Homo sapiens: one gene and its partners. The protein of the gene in region 1 purifies or fractionates together with the protein of each later gene. This does not show direct contact. Each region holds a gene or a part of one and is shown on either strand. Other genes may lie near its edges.

The links.
Region 2: the proteins of PPP6C (region 1) and CAD purify together in Homo sapiens (affinity purification with mass spectrometry, with the first as the bait; one large-scale study listed by BioGRID). This does not show direct contact.
Region 3: the proteins of PPP6C (region 1) and RAB10 purify together in Homo sapiens (affinity purification with mass spectrometry, with the first as the bait; one large-scale study listed by BioGRID). This does not show direct contact.

The regions. Positions count from the first base shown.
Region 1 is NC_000009.12:125,165,692-125,169,343, forward strand, and holds part of PPP6C (serine/threonine-protein phosphatase 6 catalytic subunit), read right to left. Parts: intron 1-3,652.
Region 2 is NC_000002.12:27,241,359-27,244,585, forward strand, and holds the end of CAD (multifunctional protein CAD), read left to right. Parts: coding exon 1-38; intron 39-552; coding exon 553-765; intron 766-943; coding exon 944-1,069; intron 1,070-1,261; coding exon 1,262-1,417; intron 1,418-1,513; coding exon 1,514-1,615; intron 1,616-1,839; coding exon 1,840-1,934; intron 1,935-2,057; coding exon 2,058-2,160; 3' UTR 2,161-2,585; downstream 2,586-3,227. UniProt on the Homo sapiens protein: Multifunctional protein that encodes the first 3 enzymatic activities of the de novo pyrimidine pathway: carbamoylphosphate synthetase (CPSase; EC 6.3.5.5), aspartate transcarbamylase (ATCase; EC 2.1.3.2) and dihydroorotase (DHOase; EC 3.5.2.3).
Region 3 is NC_000002.12:26,124,547-26,128,198, forward strand, and holds part of RAB10 (ras-related protein Rab-10), read left to right. Parts: intron 1-2,597; coding exon 2,598-2,687; intron 2,688-3,303; coding exon 3,304-3,405; intron 3,406-3,652. UniProt on the Homo sapiens protein: The small GTPases Rab are key regulators of intracellular membrane trafficking, from the formation of transport vesicles to their fusion with membranes.

The DNA of each region.
Region 1 (3,652 bases):
TGCATACTCTTTAAATACTGTACCAAAATTTGACAAGTGGCAGTTTATGACACTTAAAAGTTAATCGCAATATGAAATCTGAAACCATAACAGTAATCTTTTGCTTTTTTTTTTTTTTTTTTGGAGACAGGATCTCTCCCTGTTGTCCAGGCTGGAGTACAGTGGCACATTCTCAGCTCAGTGCAACCTCCACCTCCCAGGTTCAAGCAATTCTCATGCCTCAGCCACCTAAGTAGCCGAGATTACAGGCACGTACCTCCACACCTGGCTAATTTTTGTATTTTTAGTAGAGACAGGGTTTCACCATGTTGCTCAGGCTGGTCTCAAACTCCTGGGCTCAAGCGATCCGCTTGCCACGGCCTCCCAAAGTGCTGGGATTGCAGGTGTGAGTCACCAGGCCTGGCCTATAATAGTCATCTTTCATACCCTGTTACATTTGTTATCTTACACTTTGAGTAAATGGTAAACTAGTAATTTGAAAAATGAAAATGACATTGCATTTTATATCATCAAAAAACCATATTTGTTAATATCACTGCTCATTTCATCTCAGGAAAGTCTTTTAAGTGTCGGAAACTGTTAGCCCCATAGTGGTGGACTCAGATTTTCCAAAATTCCAATTTTTCATTAGTAAATTCAAATTTTGTCATCGGCAACAAATACTGTCAATTGTTCTCCTTGAAGTGACTGGCCCACTTCCTTCACTTTTGCAAATATAGTTGCCAAATACCCAAGTCTAAATAATCACAGTTTGTCAGTCATTCTCAAGTAAAAATAGTGTTCCATAAAAAAGCAGTTATTTTAACTCATGACTCAAAGAATTTCACAAGTATTTTTCTTTTTCTTTTTTTTTTTTTTTTTAGCAGAGTCTCACTCTGTCACCCAGGCTGGAGTGCAATGGTGAGATCTCAGCTTACTGCAACATCCGCCTCCCAGGTTCAAGTAATTTTCCCTGCCTTAGTCCCTGAGTAGCTGGGATTACAGGCACCCACCACCACACCTGGCAATTTTTTATATTTTTTAGTAAAGATGGGGTTTTGCCATGTTGGCCAGGCTGATCTTGAACTCCCGACCTCAGGTGATCTGGTGCTGGGATTACAGGTGTGAGCCACCGTGCCCAACCCACAACTACTTTTCCTTGAGTAAACTATCTTTCTTCAGCATGCAGTAGATATGCTTTATGCATACTTCCCATTTCATCACACAGACTTTTTTCTTTTTCTTTTTAGATGGGGTCTCACTCTGCTGCCCAGGCTGGAGTGCAGTGGCACAATAATAGCTGACTATAGCCTCAAACTCCTGGGCTCAAGCAATGCTTCCACCTTAGCCTCTTGAGGAGCTAGGACTTACAGACTCACACCACCAAGCCTGGCTAATTTTTTTCTTTTTAATATTTTTAGAGATGGGGGCCAGGTGCAGCGGCTCACACCTGTAGTCCCAGCACTCTGGGAGGCTGAGGCAGGTGGATCACAAGAGGCCAGGAGTTCGAGACCAGCCTGGCCAACAGGGCAAAATCCCATCCCTACTAAAAATACAAAAATCAGCCAGGCGTGGTGGTGCGTGCCTGTAGTCCCAGCTACTCGGGATGCTGAGGCACAAGAATCACTTGAACCCGGGAGGCAGAGGCTGCAATGAACTGAGATCACACCACTGCACTCCAGCTTGGGTGACAGAGCGAGACCCTGTCCAAAAAAAAAAAAAAAAAAAAGAAATAAAAAAAAGGCCGGGCATGGTGACTCACGCCTGTAATCCCAGCACTTTGGGAGGCCGAGACAGGAGACAGGAGGATCACATGAGGTCAGGGGTTCAAGACCAGCCTCAGCAACATGGAAAAACCCCATCTCAACTAAAAATACAAAAAGTTAGTCAGGCGTGGTGGCACATGCCTGTAATCTCAGCTACTCAGGAGGCTGAGGCAGGAGAATCGCTTGAACCTGGGAGGCAGAGGTTGCAGTGAGCCAGGATCGTGCCATTGCACTCCAGCCTGGATAACAAGAGAGAAACTCTGTCTCAAAAAAAAAAAATTTTTTTTTTTTAGAGATGGGGAGTCTCAGGCCGGACGCAGTGGCTCACGCCTGTAATCCCAGCACTCTGGGAGGCCAAGGCAGGTGGATCACCTGAGGTCAGGAGTTTGAGATGGGGGGGGGGGGGGGGGGTATCATTTGGTTGCCCAGGCTGGTCTTGAACCCATGGCTTCAAGCGATCCTCCCACCTCAGCCTCCCAAAGTGCTGGGATTATAGGCATGAGCCATCATGCCCAGCCAGACTTTTCAAATAATGGATATTCTAAAGGATTGAGAGTTAAGTGAAACTGGCATTTTATTTTACTGTGCAGGCATGTTGGTGAAGAACTCAATGATAATCAGTATATTCTAGTGTCATTCCCTTGGTTCATGCTAAGGCACGAGCAGTTTTACCCTCCATTGCCTCTGTACCACCTTAGAGACCCAAGGGTCCACAGGCCACACTTAACGAATTTGTGAGCTAGCTGAAATGGCTTCTTAAACAACTAATATATAGCCAAGCCAGGATTTAAACCAAGTTGTATCTGACACTGAAATCTATAACTCCTCACTATATTACACAGCTTCAATACTTCTCAGCACAACATGCTTGCTAACATGTTTATTCATACTCATAACCCAATCCTGCAATTCCAGAACAGGCCCCAGAGGAAGATAAGTCCCAAAGGATACATTTTACATTGTATTTAATCAGTCAATAGCTATTTAGAGGCTCAAATCCCATGTTTCTGATTAGCAATCTTCTGTTTTTCATTTTTTTGAGACGGAGTTTCGCTCTTGTTGCCCAGGCTGGAGTGCAATGGCGCGATCTCGGCTCACCACAACCTCCGTCTCCCAGGTTCAAGCAATTCTCCTGCCTCAGCCTCCTAAGGAGCTGGGATTACAGGCGCCTGTCACCACACCTGGCTAATTTTTGTATTTTTAGTAGAGACGGGGTTTCACCATATTTGCCAGGATGGTCTCGATCTCTTGCCCTCGTGATCCACCCACCTCAGCCTCCCAAAGTGCTGGGATTACAGGCATGAGCCACCACACCCGGCTTATTTTTTATTTTTTATTTTTTCGAGACAGAGTCTCACTCTATTGCCCAGGCTGGGGTGCAATGCATGATCTCGGTTCACTGCAACCTCTGCCTCCCGGGTTCTAGCGATTCTCCTGCCTCAGCCTCCCAAGTAGCTGGGATTACAGGCACGCACCACCACACCTGGCTAATTTTTGTATTTTTCGTAGAGACAGGGTTTCACCATGTTGGCTAGGCTGGTCTTGAACTCCTGACCTTCTGATCTGCCTGCCTCAGCCTCCCAAAGTGCTGGGATTACAGGCGTGAGCCACTGCACCTGGAACAATTGTTTTTTAAGGAACACATACAACATAAACAATTGTTCACGGTTTGGTGGTGGTCTTAAAATAACATGTACAAAAGAAACCCAAATTAGTTTCAAATCTCAATCTGCCCTGTAGTAGCTGTGTGTGAGTTTGGGCTATTTCTCTTCAATCTTTCAGTCTCCCTTTCATTGTCTACAAAATAATCCTATCTCACAGGACTTTGGGAAAAAACTGACACAGAATATGTGAAAAAGTACTTTGTTAACCTCAAAACACAAGATATATGTTAGCAAGAACTGCAC
Region 2 (3,227 bases), on another chromosome or scaffold:
TGATGGTGCAGAAGGAGCGGAGCCTCGACATCCTGAAGGTCAGGATCAGGGCCGGGGGTAGGGTCCAGGCCATCGCCTGCCCTTGGGCCGCATCAGCGCAGGGCCGCGCAGTGGTCAGAGTGGGTCTTCCTCCCCCTGCCATCCCGTCCCCTTATGCTAGTCCATCCCTCTGCTGCTGTAGATCTTCCCCCACGTTTTCCCTCCCCAAAGCAGGATTTAGCTGGCTGGGGAGGCCCTGAGCATGAGACCATCGCCCCACTAGTGGGGTCTTCTGGTCTGGGCTGCTGCAATCATGGGAGAGAGCTAGGGTGTGTCCTCCTTTCCCAGCTCGTTCAGACACTTAATGATGGGTGGTTTTCTGGAGGCAGAGCCTTTAGCTCAGAGTGACACCAGTGGTGGAAACGTCAAGGCTCTGACAGGTCACAGGGGAGGTTTGGGTGCAGAAGGGTCCTCACAGCACCCCTCAAGTGTCAGTTGGGGTGGTGGTGCCTAGCTGGGGTTTCCCCAGGGTGGACACGCATACGTACACCTTCCATCTTGCTCTTTCCCTAGGGGAAGGTCATGGCCTCCATGTTCTATGAAGTGAGCACACGGACCAGCAGCTCCTTTGCAGCAGCCATGGCCCGGCTGGGAGGTGCTGTGCTCAGCTTCTCGGAAGCCACATCGTCCGTCCAGAAGGGCGAATCCCTGGCTGACTCCGTGCAGACCATGAGCTGCTATGCCGACGTCGTCGTGCTCCGGCACCCCCAGCCTGGAGCAGTGGAGGTGAGGCCAGCCTGGGTACTGAGATGGGGTTAAGAAGGCTGGACCCAGGGGCATGAGAACCCTTCTGCCCACGTTTTCTGTGTTTTGGGCCAGATGAGTGAGGGGACCCCAGAAGAGGGGGACTGGCAGTTGGGGGGCCTCTGAGCTGCAAAAGACAGGATTTTCCCCTTTTTTCCAGCTGGCCGCCAAGCACTGCCGGAGGCCAGTGATCAATGCTGGGGATGGGGTCGGAGAGCACCCCACCCAGGCCCTGCTGGACATCTTCACCATCCGTGAGGAGCTGGGAACTGTCAATGGCATGACGGTGAGGGTGGTGGCAGGGTTTGGATCCCTGCCAGGGGACGATCTAGAGAGGGAGGCAGGAAGTGGTTACCCCGGTACAGGACAGCTGCATCAAGGAGGCCTTCATTCTGCTCCAGAGGCTTTTAAAAGCTTGGAAATGATGTCGGGGGGCACTCAGTCTGGGATCCCTGTGGTGACTGGATTCCTCTCCTAGATCACGATGGTGGGTGACCTGAAGCACGGACGCACAGTACATTCCCTGGCCTGCCTGCTCACCCAGTATCGTGTCAGCCTGCGCTACGTGGCACCTCCCAGCCTGCGCATGCCACCCACTGTGCGGGCCTTCGTGGCCTCCCGCGGCACCAAGCAGGTGAGACCCTCACAGCCCTGCCTGGAAGCCATGGAGATGTGGGTTGGGCAGTCAGAGCCCAGCGCTGCATCCACCATGGCTCTCCTCACCCTCCAGGAGGAATTCGAGAGCATTGAGGAGGCGCTGCCTGACACTGATGTGCTCTACATGACTCGAATCCAGAAGGAACGATTTGGCTCTACCCAGGAGTACGAAGCTGTGAGTGCTGGGCTTGAGGAAGAAGCCAGGGCTGCTGCCGTAGGGCATCAGATATGAGGACAGAAAGGCTGGGCTGAGGGCTGGGTCAGAGCTGTTAAACTTCACATCTGTCAATTGCCATAGCTGCATGTGGGTGTGGAGGGGACCCCAGTGGAGCCCAGACTTGTGTCCTCTGTAGCCACTCCTACCCCAAGGCACTAATGGGGACCCCATCTGCTTTGCAGTGCTTTGGTCAGTTCATCCTCACTCCCCACATCATGACCCGGGCCAAGAAGAAGATGGTGGTGATGCACCCGATGCCCCGTGTCAACGAGATAAGGTGGTGCAGCATCAGAGTCAGAGACTGCCTCGGGGCTGGTGGACGGGAGGAGACTTAGTCCTGGACAAGCCATCCATGGGCTGCACGATAACACTTCCTTTTTTTTTTTTTTTTTTTTTGCAGCGTGGAAGTGGACTCGGATCCCCGCGCAGCCTACTTCCGCCAGGCTGAGAACGGCATGTACATCCGCATGGCTCTGTTAGCCACCGTGCTGGGCCGTTTCTAGGGCCTGGCTTCCTCAGCCTCTTCTCTTTAGGCCCAGCTGCTGGGCAAGGAATTCCAGTGCCTCCTACGGGGGCAGCACACTTAGATATTCCTGGACATCCAGATAGCTCACATGTGCTGACCACACTTCAGGCTCTGGACTGGAGCTCTCTGGCATGGGGGTGGGGCCTCAGATGCTGGGGCCCAGTCTGCCCCATCTTCATTCCTGCACCTTAAACCTGTACAGTCATTTTTCTACTGACTTAATAAACAGCCGAGCTGTCCCTTGATGCTGAGTGTAGTAGAACAGAGCTTTCTTTTAGAAAATTGAGCAGATTCCCAAATTATAAGAGCAGCCTCACCAGGCAGGGCTCTGGCTAGGGCTGCGTGCCCACACTCGGCATTTTCACACTCGTGACTCTTTGGGACTCGGCAGGAGCGTGTTAACTCTGTGCTCTCTGAGTCCTGTGTCGTGCTGATGCCAGCGCTTACCTGGGGGCTCTGGCTGGTGTCCAGCCCTCCTTCCTCAATTCAGTTGACTCAAAGACCTGACAGAGAGTTCTGCCCTCTTCCTGACACTGGGAGAACACTCATCAGGGTAAAAGGAAGGCTGAGCACTGCGGCCTGTCTGAGGCCAGGCCTGGACTCTTCCTCACTCTTTCTGGTTAGTCCTCCTCCAGTGGCTAAGGCTGCCATTGCATTCTCAAAACCACCCTGGAGTTCTTCAGCCACTGTCACTATTAGGAGCCCCTCCTATTTCCCATCCCTGGGAGCCTCTGCCTGACATTGGACAGAGGGGCAGATGCCATGGAGGGCTGAGGAGCACTTTGGCTTGGAGACCCCAGGGCAGCAGCCTAAGGGCAGTAGCTTATGTGTCTGTGGGTGAGGGCTTCTGAGGAGCAGCTGTGCCCTCCAGTGAACTTGAGTAGCATTGGAGAAATCTCATTTCTTGTTCCAACAAAACTTAGCACTCTGTGGGTACAAAGCACCATGTGCAGTGGGAGTACAAGGAAGAACAAGGCAATTCTCACCCTCAGTTTTCAGCCTCGGGTCATAAGGCTTCCAGTGGCTTCTACAGATTAAACTGCT
Region 3 (3,652 bases), on another chromosome or scaffold:
TGAGCCCCCGTGCTCAGCCTATTGTTGTTTTTGAATACTTTTTAAAATTGTGGTGAAATACATACAACATGAAATTTTCATTTTAACTATTATTTTGGTGTATAGTTCAGTGGTGTTAAGTACATTCTACTGTTGTGCAACCGTCACCACCATCCATTTCCAGAACTTTTTCATCTTTCTGAACTCAAGCTTTGCATCCATTAAACAATGATTTCTGTCTCCCCCTTTCCCCATCTCCTGGCAACTGTCACCATTCTATTTTCTATGAATTTGACTGTTATAGGTACCTCATATAAGTGGAATCATATAGTATTTGTTCAATTTGTAAGTAATTTACTTCATTTAACATAAAGTTTTCAAGGTTCATCTACATTGTAGCATGTGTCAGAACTTGTTTATTTTTTGAGGCTGAATAATATTCCATTGTTTTTATATGCCATGTTCTGTTTATTCATTCACCCATTGTTGGATATGTGGGTTGTTTTCACCCTTTTACTATTGTGAATAATGTTGCTGTGAACACTGGTGTACAAATATCTGAGTCCCTGCTTTAAATTCTTCTGCGTGTATACCCATGAGTGGAATTGCTGGATCATATGATAATTCTGTGTGTAACCTTTTGAGGAATCACCAGACTTTTCCACAGTGATTGCACCATTTTACATTCCTACCAACAGTACACAAAGGTGTCGGTTTCTCCACATCCTCGCCAATATGTGTTTTCTGTTTTTTTAATAGTAGCCATACTAATGGGTATGTAGTGGTATCTCTCATTGTGGTTTTTGATTTGCATTTCCTAATCTTAGTGATATTGAGCATCTATTCATGTGCATATTGTTTGTTTGTATATCTTCTTTGAAGAAATGTCTATTCAAATCCTTTGCTTGCTTTTTTTTTTTTTTTTTTTTAAATTTTTTCCAGACAGGTTCTTGCTCTGTTCCCCAGGCTGGAGTACAGAGGCATGATGATCATGGCTCACTGCAGCCTCAACTTCCCAGGCTCAAGTGATTCTCCTACCACAGCCTCCTAAGTAGCTGGGACTACAGGCACACACCACCGTGCCTGGCTAATTTTTAAATTTTTTGTAGAGATGAGGTCTCACAGTGTTACTCAGGCTAGTCTCGAACTCCTGGGCTCAGGCAATTTTCCTGACAGCCTCCCAAAGTGCTGTCATTTTTTGTTGTTGTTAGGAGTTTTAGGTGTTTTTTATATATTCTAGGTATTATTCCCTTTCAAATACATGATTTACAAATATTTCCTCCTTTTTGTGGGTAGTCTTTTCATTCTCTTGATAGCGTCCTTTGTTGCACAGTAGTTTTTAACTTTGATGAAGTACAGTTTAACTACTTTTTCTTTTATTGCCTGTGCTTTTGGTATCATGTCAAAGAAACCATTGCCAAATCCAGTGTCCTGAAGCTTTTCCCTATGTTTTCTTCTAAGAGTTTTATAGTTTGAGGTCTTTGATCTAGTTCAAGTTAATTTTTTTATATGGTTTAAAATAAGGATCCAGCTTCATTGTTTTGCATGTGGATATCTGGTTTTCCTAGTGCTATTTATTGAAAAGACTGTCCTTTCCCTATTGACTGATTTTGGCATCCTTGTCGAGGGTCATTTGACTAAGTATGTGAGGATTTATTTCTGGGCTCTCTATTCCATTCCATTAGTCTGTGTATCTGTCTTTATGCCAGTTCCACACTTTTTGATTTGCAGTAAGTTCTGAAATTTGACTCCCCCAGCTAATATTATTTTGGCTGGGCTCAGTGGCTCATGCCTGTAATCCTAGCTCTTTGGGAGGCCGATGGGGGTGGATCACTTGAGGCCAGGAGTTCGCGATCAGCCTGGCCAACATGGCAAAACCCCCCATCTCTACCAGAAAACTACAAAAATTAGCTGGCATGGTAGTACACACACCTGTAGTCCCAGCTACTCACAGCTACTCAAGAGGCTAAGGCAGGAGAATCGCTTGAACTCGGGAGGCGAAAGTTGCAGGAAGCCCAGATCACACCACTGCACTCCAGCCTGGGCAACAGAGCAAGGCTCTGTCTCAAAAAGAGAGATTCTTTTGATGTTAGATTCCATATGAATTTTTGGATAGATCTTTCTATTTCTGCAAAAATTGTCATTGGGATCTTAAGGGGACAACCACTTGTTTTTAACTGATTTTTCTGCATGGACCTCCTTGTGCCATAGCAGCACAGCTATTTGAGAGTTTAAGGCTCTATAAAATGTTTAATTAAGGCTTCTATAGGGTAGTATGCATTATAAAATCTGAAATGATCCAGCCTGGATTTAGATTATGCAAGTTTCTTTGCTTGTATCTTCTCTTTTGGTAAGAAAGAACATACCTAGAAAGTAGACAGCCTCCTTTAGGGAGGAAATAGTATTTGACATGGATATGTCTTGGGAATTGCGTTTCTTTTGCTAGGTAATCTAAGAATTTGTGTAGGCTTTTAGTATGGAGTAGTTTTAGGGTGACTGCTTTAAAACTTCAAAGCTATAGAAATGACCCTCTAAATTGAGAGAATAAAGTCACTTTTAAAGACTGTTAAGCCGTAATTCATGGTAGTATGTAAAAGTAAAATTTTATTTCATTTTAGCATGCCAATGAAGATGTGGAAAGAATGTTACTAGGAAACAAGTGTGATATGGACGACAAAAGAGTTGTACCTAAAGGAAAAGGAGAACAGGTAAAAATCTGAATTAAACTGATACTCTGCTCTGTCTTTGTAAAGGTAATGCTACTTTTGATTATTTTTATAGTAATAGTGATCGAACACACTAAGCTAATTACATAGTTTTTAAAATGCTTGTTGGAAATAATATTTTATCATTTGAGTGAATTTTTTTTCAGTGCATATTTAACATGTATGGGAGAATCAAATGTGCCCATAGTATTTTTAGCCTTATTTAAACTACAAAGAGAGAAAAATATAAGTCATTAATCCTCGGTTTTTAAACTTAGGACTTTAAGGAAATGTATCAATTAGTATGGTTCTAAAATGTGACAATCAGGAGCCTATGGTGAGCAGAAATTAGACCCTGAGGAGTCAGGTTGAGCTTCTCATAAGTTTGCCCCCAGTGTGAAGTATCTGACTTAGAATATCTGAAATAAACTTTTGGGGTAAGGAGATTACTTTTCTTTTGTTTGTTTTATGAAAGAGCTTGACTTGCTGAAATATTCTGTGTTATATATTCTAGTTGGGACCACTGCCTTCAGAATAAGATTAATATTTAAGCTGTTAAAGTCAGCAGTTGGCAACCCATGCTTGATAATTTTATGATGATATTTTGTTTCTGTTTTAGATTGCAAGGGAGCATGGTATTAGGTTTTTTGAGACTAGTGCAAAAGCAAATATAAACATCGAAAAGGCGTTCCTCACGTTAGCTGAAGATATCCTTCGAAAGGTAAGTTCCTGTTTTTATATCCTGCCAGGTACCTGAGTATCTCTGTTGAATATTTTGTCTATTCTGAAGTACTGGATTTACATACAGAATTTGAGTTTGGGTGGTATTGTTTCTGTAGGGCAGCAGTCCCCAGCCTTTTTGGCACCAAGGACTGGTTTCATGGAAGATAATTTTTCCATGGACCGTACTGGGGGGTAGTTTCACCCAGAAACTACCCCACCTCAGATCATCAGGCGTTAGATCCTCC